Regions from separate parts of the Homo sapiens genome. Here region 1 is linked to region 2. Evidence: fine-mapped expression QTL. Tissue or cell type: caudate. Region 2 holds a variant in brackets; the other region holds the start of a gene. All regions are shown on one strand. Distances are from middle to middle.

What was found. PIP is the estimated chance that this variant, and not a neighbour inherited with it, causes the effect.
Region 1: ENOX2 starts here. The variant in region 2 is fine-mapped to the expression of ENOX2 in caudate (GTEx, PIP above 0.99).

Annotation. Positions count from the first base shown.
Region 1 is chrX:130,901,235-130,906,386 of GRCh38, forward strand. It overlaps ENOX2 (ecto-NOX disulfide-thiol exchanger 2), which reads right to left and starts at 1,975. Exons shown (of 15, transcript NM_006375.4): 1 at 1,815-1,975; 2 at 450-497. RefSeq lists enhancers at 1,341-1,860, 1,721-1,990, 1,861-2,380, 2,001-2,190.
Region 2 is chrX:130,592,765-130,597,916 of GRCh38, forward strand. No RefSeq gene overlaps it. Among named protein-coding and RNA genes, the nearest start is that of RBMX2, 190 kb to the left of the region's middle. RefSeq lists an enhancer at 1,737-1,881 and a cis regulatory region at 1,801-1,818. The variant G/C (reference allele first, on the strand shown) is at 2,038.

The DNA.
Region 1 (5,152 bases), 310 kb after region 2:
AAAGAACATTGGGAGCAGCAAACCATGTTGAACAGAGCATGGGCTTTGGAGTCAGAAATCTGTACACCCAAACCTCAACTCAACTTATAATCTATGTGACTTTAAGTAGATTGTTTAACTTCTGTGCATTTTAGTGTTTTCTTCTAGAAAAAGAAACAGGAATAATAGTACCTACTTCATAACACTCAAGATAATGCAACAAAGTATTTATGATGATGACTAGGACATTATGTGGGTTCAATAAATAGCAGTCATTATTGTCACCCAATGAGATGACTACAGTTCAGATAATGTGATGCACGGGGACAGCAAATGCATTTCTTAAGAAAATATATCGATGTCTCTAGGCTTTAAAGTTGACAGCTATAGACTGTAGCTAAGAATAGCTACAAACAAAACATCTGCAAGACAAGCTTCTTCTTGGATTTAAACTCACACCTGGAACATACCATCACACTTCTTTGTGTTCTCCAAGAATTGATCTCAAATCAGGTTCCCTAGGATGAAAAGAAAAATCATCCAATCTTAATTTTTGCCTTCAATTTTATTTGATACAGAATAATATCCAAACTATGTGTATGTTTCAAAGTATCATGTTATTATGACCCCAAGCTTCTCCACCCTATTTATTTCCCAGTATATTTGTGCTGATATCTTTTATTCCAATCAGGCAAGCCCACCTGTCTCACAGTGCTCCCTCTTCTGTTTACCCTTCTCAAAGTCCAATCTCAGTAGCAGGAAGCATTTTCTCCCTCCTCTTTGACAACTTCAAATCCCCTGTACTCTGCTGGAGCCCAGATTAAAATTCACCTCCTTCACAAAGCCTGAAAGCCGGATGAGGGCTTCAGCACTTCCCGGGTTAGGCTTGAACTTCCATAGATGAACTCACCACCCCCATCAGTATGCTCTTCCACTGACCCCTCTTAGCGTTTTTTGCACACGTTTGTAATAATACAATGATTAATATGGTCTGTTTCACACGGTCTACTTTATTCTGTAGAATAAAGGTGTGCCCCCTAAATGTTTGTCAACATTAGTGCTATCAGTCTTTGCTGGAAACCCCTAAAGCGCTGGATTTTTATAACCAGTCTAACTTGCCTTTTACTCTCACCAGAACCCTGCACTGAACCTTAAACACACATTTCTCAAAAGCAAGATTCCTTCCCTCTTTTGCTTCCCATCCCTTCTAGAAATTGAGGGGAAACTCTCCCCACTTCAAAGACCTGGTGGGGGAAGTGGCAGGTGGCTGAGGGGCCAGTAAAGAGATGGCGATCAATTAAGGAGGCAAAAAGAGAAAGTTTGAAAAAAAAAAGTCACGCCCTGAGCGTGGCAAGGAATTCCCATGCCCCAAAGAAAATGGGGAGTGTAGCGCAGGGAGGGTTATGTGCCCAAACCTGAAATACAAATTGAGGGAAAAGAGGAAAGAGATCACCCAATTCCTGCGGTAAGAATTAGAGTCCAGTCACCGCCTAGGCAAAACCCTGGACGCAAACCCCAACTTCGGACCTCTGAGGAGGCACAGAGCCAGGGGGAGGGGGGCGGCGTCGTGGGAAAAAAAAAAAGGGGCGGGCGAGTTGGACCAAAAAAAAAAAAAAAAAAGAGCAAAGACAGCGCGCTCCCGGGCTCAAGAGAACTGGCGCCTAGAGCTCAAAAGCCCACCCCCGACTCCCAGTCCCGATACCCCCTCCCCTGCAGAGGTGGAGCTGGGTGGAGTTAGGCGCTGAGGACCGCGGCCCCGGAAGCACCCTCCTCCCTAGGCCCCCTCAGTCCCACAGTCCCCAGCCACGGCCACCGGGGCTTTCTGCCTCTCTGACCTCCAGCTCCCCGGCTACCGAAGCGCTAGTCCTTATACAGCCGCGGAAAATCGGGCCGGCGCGGCAGTTCCTGGGCTCGTAGTGCCCTCGCGGCGCCCCACGCCGCGCCACTCTCTTCCGAAATGCCCGCCTCGCGCTTCCAGGCCTAGACCCGGCACTCTGGCCCAAGGCTGGACTCTCACACACAGGGTGCCCACTGCGGCGTCTCCTATTGGCTACTGGTCACCGGGGAAGCCGGAGGCCCGAGCCCATGGCTTCATGGGAAATGTAGTTTGAGGTCGCTGGAGGCTGTTCTTCCTGGGGGTAACTCGTGTTGACATTGGCAGACAGACACAAGTGAGGACCGAGAATTATGGGAGATGGAGTTGCGGGACACTTATTTCTCTATACGCACAATTCTTCCCCTCCCCTTCCGATTGTCCCCAGCGTTCAGACGGGGAAGGGTATTCTGGGTATTGTAGTTTGGGTGCACTGTCTAGAGAATCTCTCTTGGGGTTATGGGTTTGTGCTTGTGGGGACAGACGAAGGCTCTAGATTTATTTTCATGTCGGTTAAGCTCTTAGCATTTTGCGGGAAGCACTTTCTATCGTGATTTGAAATTGTTATTGAGTTTTAAGTGTTTTTCAAAAGATGATGTTTATTCTTTGGTAAGCTTAGAATTTTAATTGAGAGTTATAGTCCTTTAAAATTGTTAAAGTGTGTTCCTTGTGAACCACCTGCATTAAAATCACTTGAAAGGTATGGAAGAATGTATATATTTTTTTCTAATTGGAAATTATAGTTCCCCCTGGAAACAGTGTCATAAATAGGCATAGAAATGTGATCTACACCAGCCCAGAAGAAGCCTATTTAATCCATAATGAAGCTATGTTGTTGCCATGAAAAACAGTGGCCACATAAACTGCTATAAATAACAATTTAGAACAGATAGACAATACAACTTAAGTACAAACGAGTAACTATATGTGTCTTTAAGAAACTTAACCTTTTGAGTAAAAATATGTTACAAGAGCTGGATAAAGACATAGGTGGGGAATGCCAAGCACTTCCAAGTGACTTAAAGGTTGAGGAAAATGGTTGTTTATTAGGGCTAATTTCACTCCCAACTTTTGACCTTTTTTTTTCTCTGTTAGAGATGAATCCTTGTAGCCTTGTTACAGTTGAATTACTACAACTTCTTGATGAGGACAACTTTTCGACTCACGAGTAAAATGAAGGGAAAGACAGGGGAATTGCATTTTGCTGAGGTAATTGCCCAATATTTTAAAAAGATAAGTGAAGGAGGAAGACGATTTAATAAATTCAACCATTTATTCAGCATAGTGCTTTGTGCAAAGCTCTGGGCTAGGCACTGTTGCCACAGAATTGGAAAAATAGTCCCTACCCTCAAGTAGCTCAAAATCCAGGTGAGGGGAGTTGTAGTAGAGGAGAATCTGGGGGGAGGAATAGATGAGTATACAATGTGCAAAATGCTGTAAAGAAGTCTACATAGGGTTCTATAGGAACATAGAGGAGGAAGAACTTGTTCTACTTCTGGAGAACTGGTTGAAGAACCAGTAAAATATTTGTCAGATTTGGGGCAGGGAGGTCAACCATATTCTATACAAAGCATATGCAAAGGCATAAAGGCATGAAAGAGTGCAGAGAACAATAGCAAAAGTTCCATATTGCAGAGACTAGATCAGGCAGCAACAAGGGGTCATATCAATTAGTTCATAATTTAACTTGAAAGTGGGAGAGAACCATCAGAGGAATTTTTGTGCTTATATAGTGTTTATTTTTTAAAGCATATACACATAGAACATACTGGGAACACATAGCTAGGGTATTATGGGGAATCATTCTGGAGGGTGGTAATTGAATTGCTATATTATGTTTTAATACTTTTTATACTTTTAAATTCCTCCAGGAAAATAATTTGCTTTTTTAAAAAAAGAAAAATCGGCTGGGTGCCGGGGCTCATGCCTGTAACCCTAGCACTTTGGGACACCAAGTTGGGAGGATTGCTTGAGCCCAGGAGTTCGAGACCAGCTTGGGCAACATAATGAGACCTTGTCTCTACAAAAAATCAAGAAAATTAGCCAGGCATAGTGGCGCATGCCTGTAGTCCCAGCTACTCAGGAAGCTGAAGCAGGAGGATCCCTTGAGCTTGGAAAGTTAGGGCTGCAGTCAGCCGATATTGTACCACTACACTCGAGTGTAGTGGGTGATAGAGCAAGACTCTGTCTCAAAAAAAATTAAAAAATTAAAAAAAGAAAGAAAAAAGAGAAAAAGAAAAATCACCTCATTTCAGCCATAAAAAGGAGTGAAACAAGGCATTTTCAGTATTATGGCCACCAGAAAAACATTGTGTGAATCAAATGCAGAATTTCTTTTCTCAGCTTTGTCTCCTTTCTTTTTATCTTTTTTTCCATGACTCTTTACTTTGATTTGATCATTGATTTCAAAGTATTTGCAGAGCACCTACTATGTTCCATACACTATGACAGGTTTTGGGTTTTAATGGTGAGTTAAAACATGGGTTCCTGTTCATCAAAGTATTTCTAGCAGGAAATGGAATAATCAGATGGAGTTGGTAGATGTGGAAAGTGAGAGACGGGGAGGAGTCCATTACGACTCCCAAGTTCTGACTTGGAAGACTAAGTGTATGGTAGTACCATTCACTGAGATATTGAACCTAGAAAGAATAGCAAGTTTTGTGAAGAATAGGAGGAAATCAGTTTTGAACATTTAAAATTTGAAGAGTCTGTGGAACTTTTGGTTGGAGATGCCTGATAGGCTGCTGAGAAATGCCGGTCGGAAGCTTGGGAGAGAGGTCTTGCTTGGAACTAAACATTTGGGAGACATTAGTATAATATAGAGGGCAATTAAATAAGTGAAAAATTGTTTAAACTTTACTTAGAGAGTATTTTTTTTTTTGAGACGGTTTCTTACCCTGTTGCCTAGGCTGGAGTGCAGTGGCACAATCTCGGCTCACTGCAACCTCTGCCTCCTGGGTTCAAGTGATTCTCCTGCCTCAGCCTCCCGAGTAGCTGGGATTACAGGTGCCTGCCACCACAGCTGGCTATTTTTTTTTTTATTTTTAGTAGAGATGGGGCTTCACTGTGTTGCCCAGGCTGGTCTCGAACTCCTGACGTCAAGTGATCCACCCGCCTCAGCCTCCCAAAGTGCTGGGATTACAGGCGTGAGCCACTGTGCCCAGCCAATTTAGAGAGTATTTAGAATAATAGTTTTTAAAAAGACAAAGATTATGGAATCCTGGAAAATAATGATATTCAAGTAGCAAGTAGAAGAAGAGATGCCTTCCAAGGAAGCTGAGAGGGAATGCCCAAACAGAT
Region 2 (5,152 bases):
TTTTATTTTTGTGGTTTTTTTTTTTTAGACTGAGTAACATTTTCTTCATCACTCATGTGGCATTTAATAGTTACTGTCTGGTGTTGATAGTATTTTTTTTTCATGTGTGGACAACTTATTTTCCCATCTAGACAGGGAACTCTTTGAGCACAGGGACTGTCTCATATCTATTGTTTTCCTTACTGCAGCTGGTGATAAAAATATCACCACTCCCCAGAGCTACCACTTATTGAACCCTTGATATATTCTAGGTACAGTGCCAAACACCTTACATATATTATCTTCTCATTTGATAATCATAGCAATTCTGTGAGGTTGTTATAATCTCCATTCTACAGATTAGGCAATTGAGTCAGGCAGAGGTTGAGACATCTGCTCAAGGTCACATAGCAAGTGGCATAGAGGGGACTCAAAAGCAGGTAAGTCCGACTCCTAACTTGCTTTTTTTGTTTTATTTATTTTTGTTTTTGTTTTTGTTTTTTTTGAGACAGAGTCTCGCTCTGTTGCCCAGGCCGGAGTGCAGTGGCGCCATCTCGGCTCACTGCAAGCTCCGCCTCCTGGGTTCACGCCATTCTGTTGCCTCAGCTTCCCCAGTAGCTGGGACTACAGGCGCCCGCCACCACACCTGGCCAATTTTTTTGTATTTTTAGTAGAGACAGGGTTTCACTGTGTTACTCAGGATGGTCTTGATCTCCTGACCTCGTGATCCGCCCTTCTCGGCCTCCCAAAGTGCTGGGATTACAGGTGTGAGCCACCACGCCCGGCCCTAAACTTGATCTTTTAACCACTAAAGCCATTGCTTCATTATGTACTGTATGCTAGTATGATGTGTGTCTCCTATGCATATAGTGGGCTCACAATAAGTACTTTTGATTAATTAGCCTGTAAAATGCAGATAATAAATTCTACCTTTATCTCATAAAGTAAGTCCCACAAAAGTGCTTGGAAAATACCCAATGTTCAATAAATATGACACATTTTTTGGAATATTTGTTTATGGATTGTGCAAATGACTGAAAATGTATGGTGGTAATGCTGACATTCACAAGTTGACTGTCGCATAATGCTATCATCAAGTGTCATAATGGAAAAGTTCCAGCCTTTCCTAAGGACTACATTTTCTCTGAGACACTAAAATCTGGAGTTGAAGAATTCTCCAGAGGCTAACCTCCATGTAGACCTTTCATGCCACCTTGCTGAAAAGATATTCGTCTACAATTCTCAGCGGCTTTCTTCCCCACTCCTGAAGCTTCTATCGACAACATCCCTCTCATCTCTTTCTCTCCCTTTCTGTGGATGCAGCTCGGCCTACCCGACATCTAACCATGCTAATAGCCTCTCAGTTGCTATGGGGGTTCTTTGGAATAAGTCAAGCTGTTGGAAGCTTTGTCTGGGCAAAGTGTGTAGCTGACATCTAAAGGAACTATTCCCTGAGGTCGGGCACTCATCCCAACAGAAAAGGAAGAGCTGCCAAACCTGGAGGCAGTGCGCAGTGTCGTGTTTTCAAAGCTTGCTGAATTTCGAATAGCAAATCTGACCATGCATACAAAGAAAGGTGATTTAATATTCTGACTACTTCTTCCCTCCCCTAATACCATCTGCAGCAGAGACACAGTAGCCCTCCTCCTTTTTATTAAAACCAAGACTATTGTCTCACTAAAGTAAAAGATCCTCATGTCTGGTCCCAGAATTCTGTGTGTTCCCTACCCAAGGCAAGAATGGACCCAAGGTGCAGACCACTTAGCAAGCACGTTTATATTCAGGGAAGTGTGCAGAGACAGAAGAAGGCTGCAAGTGAATCTGCTAGGGGTAGATAAGAGCTGCAGGTCACCAGCACCACATGTGACCTGCTTGTGATATAAGCCACGTGCTTTATGCTGTAATTCTTGTTTTACAAGGCAATAAAGCAGGGGATGCGGGGCGGGGGTGGGGGGACAAAAAGTGCTTTTCAGTGAGAGTGTATTTTGGTCACGTCGTCCGCCCTTTTCTTTTCTCTTCATAAATCCGGCATGACTGGTTTAGTCAATTGGAAGTTTT[G/C]TGTATTGTTTGGCTTATGTATGCACAGTGCCTAGGCTCTGTCTCATTATGCTGATGTTAGCACAAATTACTGCATGTGAGGCTCCGTCACCTAGAGAGGGACACAGGAAAGGCAACATGTCACAGAAAAAAGAAAATTAAGTTAGGTGTTTACCCTTGCTCTCCACCTCACTAAAATAGTATAAACTTTGATGACTGATTGTCTTAACATCACATTTAGTGTTTTTAAAAGATGTTTTCTGTGTTTAACAGCACAGTCTCTTGAGTCAGAAAATTTTAAGTTCATATCCCAGCTTTGCCACTTGCTAGCTGTTTGGCCTTGGGTGATTATTTAGCCTCTCTAGGCTCTGCTTTCCTTATCTGTAAAATGGTAGTTTGATTCCTAAAACGATGCTATTAACTGCTAACCATATTGCTTCATTATGCCCTATGCAAGAGGATACTGGAGTTTTTGGTTAAGATTAAATCAGATACTGCATGAAAAACATTTGATACAGTGCTTGGCACATAGTATTTTGTAAATGCTTTCATTGCTTTTTCTGGGGTTACCAATACCTGGAGAAAGTATATGGACTGTGCCGAATAAGAGTAGGCGAAGGCATTCTGAATGGAGGGAGAAATTTGGGGAGAGGTGGGGAGCAGTGTAGTCTCATGGTAAATACCATGAACATTGACAGCTTCACCTATTACCAGCTCTGTGACCTTGGGCTAGTCACAACCTCAGTATTGAGCCTCAGTTTCCTCATAAGTAAAATGGAGCTAATAATAACACGGTTGTCATGAGGATTAAATGACATATAAAACACTGAGCACGGGCTGGGCACAGTGGCTCGCGCCTGTAATCCTAGCACTCTGGAAGGCCAAGGTGAGTAGATCACCTGAGGTCAGGAGTTTGAGAACAGGCTGGCCAACATGGTGAAACCCCGTCTCTACTAAAAATACAAAAAATTAGCTGGGTGTGGTGACGGGTGCTTGTAATCCCAGCTACTCGGGAGGCTGAGGCAGGAGAATCACTTGAACCTGGGAGGCAGAGGTTGCAGTGAGCTGAGATCATGCCATTGCACTCCAGCCTGGGCAACAAGAGTGAAACTCTGTCTTGAAAAAATAATAAATAAATAAATTAATTAATTAATTAATAAAACACTGAGCACAGTGTTTGACAGAGGAAATGCTTAATAAATATGAACTGCTGTTATTTAAAATTATTTTTCCCTTTGTAGTTTGACACCCCAAGTTAGGAGCACAACAGCTAGGTGGATGCCAAGATATTGAGTTGTAGAGCATGCATAAGGCCGCTGCCGAGTTCAAAGAGCCTGGAGAGGAAGAGGCCAAACTGTAAGATTCATCTGCCCCAAGCTCATCAGGGCCCACATTCAGCATGTTGTCTAGGACATCAAAATAACTTTTGATGGGTCCTGGACCCATGACCCATGCATGCCATTTTGGACAGCATTTCGCAGGTCTGAGCCTATTTATAAACACTGTTTATTCATGAATTTTAGCCACTTGGAAAGCCTCCTGAATCACATGGGACCAAACCCAAGGCCTTTGTAGCAAGGGGCAGAAACTTAGCCATTTTTCTTGATCTACCAAGCCAGACTTTTTGCAAAGAGTTTTGAATATTTTGGAGAATCCGATGAAGGCCAGGGCCTCTTTCCCAAAAGAATGCACATAAGCCCTAACCCCCTACTTCCCTACACAATTTAGTACACAGTTTTGGAGTTTTGGAGAGTTCAAAGTCTTCATAAAGTCTGCTATGGATCCCATAGGGGTTCATGGACCTCAGGATAAGAATCCCTGGATTAGTGGAGGAGGACCTTTTTAAAAATTATAATTATGGGATTTTGGCCATACAGCCCATCACTCCTGGCTTCAGGGCAGATGAACAGTAAATTCATAGACTGAAATATTTCAATTTAAGTATGGTTTGCTTTTTTCTTTTCCAGAAAGAAATACATGAGGATTCACCAAAGAAGTTTGGTTTCAAGAGTCAAAATAAAAAGGCTAGTTTACACAAAGTGGGTTGTGGGATGCTTGTCTAAATTCTTTGATTTGGTCTTATCTGTGGCATCCTGGCATGAAACTGCCCAAGGGAGACTTAATCAAATCCTGGGAGATTGGCTTATAGAAATATATGTTTTTAATACTTACCTGATATACAGGGATGAAAATTCTAGTTAACAATCCCTCTCTAAACATACACACCTTCTTCTTCACTAAAGAAAATAAAAGTCCTAATATGAAGTGTTGCAGATGTTCTGACAGCTCTAGTATTTTGGCACATAAATGGATCTGTGAAAAGCATATTTCTTTTTTGTTATTAAATCAGAATTTCAATGTGTCCTACTTGCTACTGCTGAATGGTGCATTTGCCATACAGATGTTGATGCATAATCAATGAACTTTTTTAAAATGCCAGTGTTCCCCATAGCAGAATCATCATTCATTGAGTAGGGAGGGAGGCAGAGCTGAGCCAAGAGAAACTGATTCTTTCTTGAAGAATCATGCTGATTCTCTGGGGTCCACTGTACACTGGTCTTCAGAGTTTGAGAAAACTTGTGTCAGGGGTCCCCTATATAAAAGATCAACAGAACATGGACCATAACTAAAAGATGTTTTACTGGTCTCATGTTTTGCTAGCCTCTGTGTGTTTCGTCACATGATCAGCTTGTAAAGTCCTTAAAATGAACTAATAAAACATTTAAGTGTAGGTAGTTATGTAGAGCCCCCAAAAGGAGGGAAGCTGAGGAGGTTATGGCCCCTTCCATAACCACAATTATGGGAGAGGAGAGGAGATAGCAACTATGGAGAGGAGATGAGACAAAGCTGAGGTTTTGTAGCCTACAGCAAAGAAAGGAGCATGGAGAATGGCCTGGAATTGAGAAGGGACCCTTATAGTCTTTCATTCAGCCTGGAGATAAACATCATACATGAAATTGTCCAAGAGAGAAGGAACCCACCAGAATTCTGTGTGGATTTTCTTCTCAGATCCCAAATACTCCCAAAGGCTGCAAATAGAAACAAAGGTGATTTGATAGATGAGACAGCTTAAAAATTTTCTGACTACAAAACACCCATTGCTGGATAGAATATTTCATTTTCAAATGCATAGTTG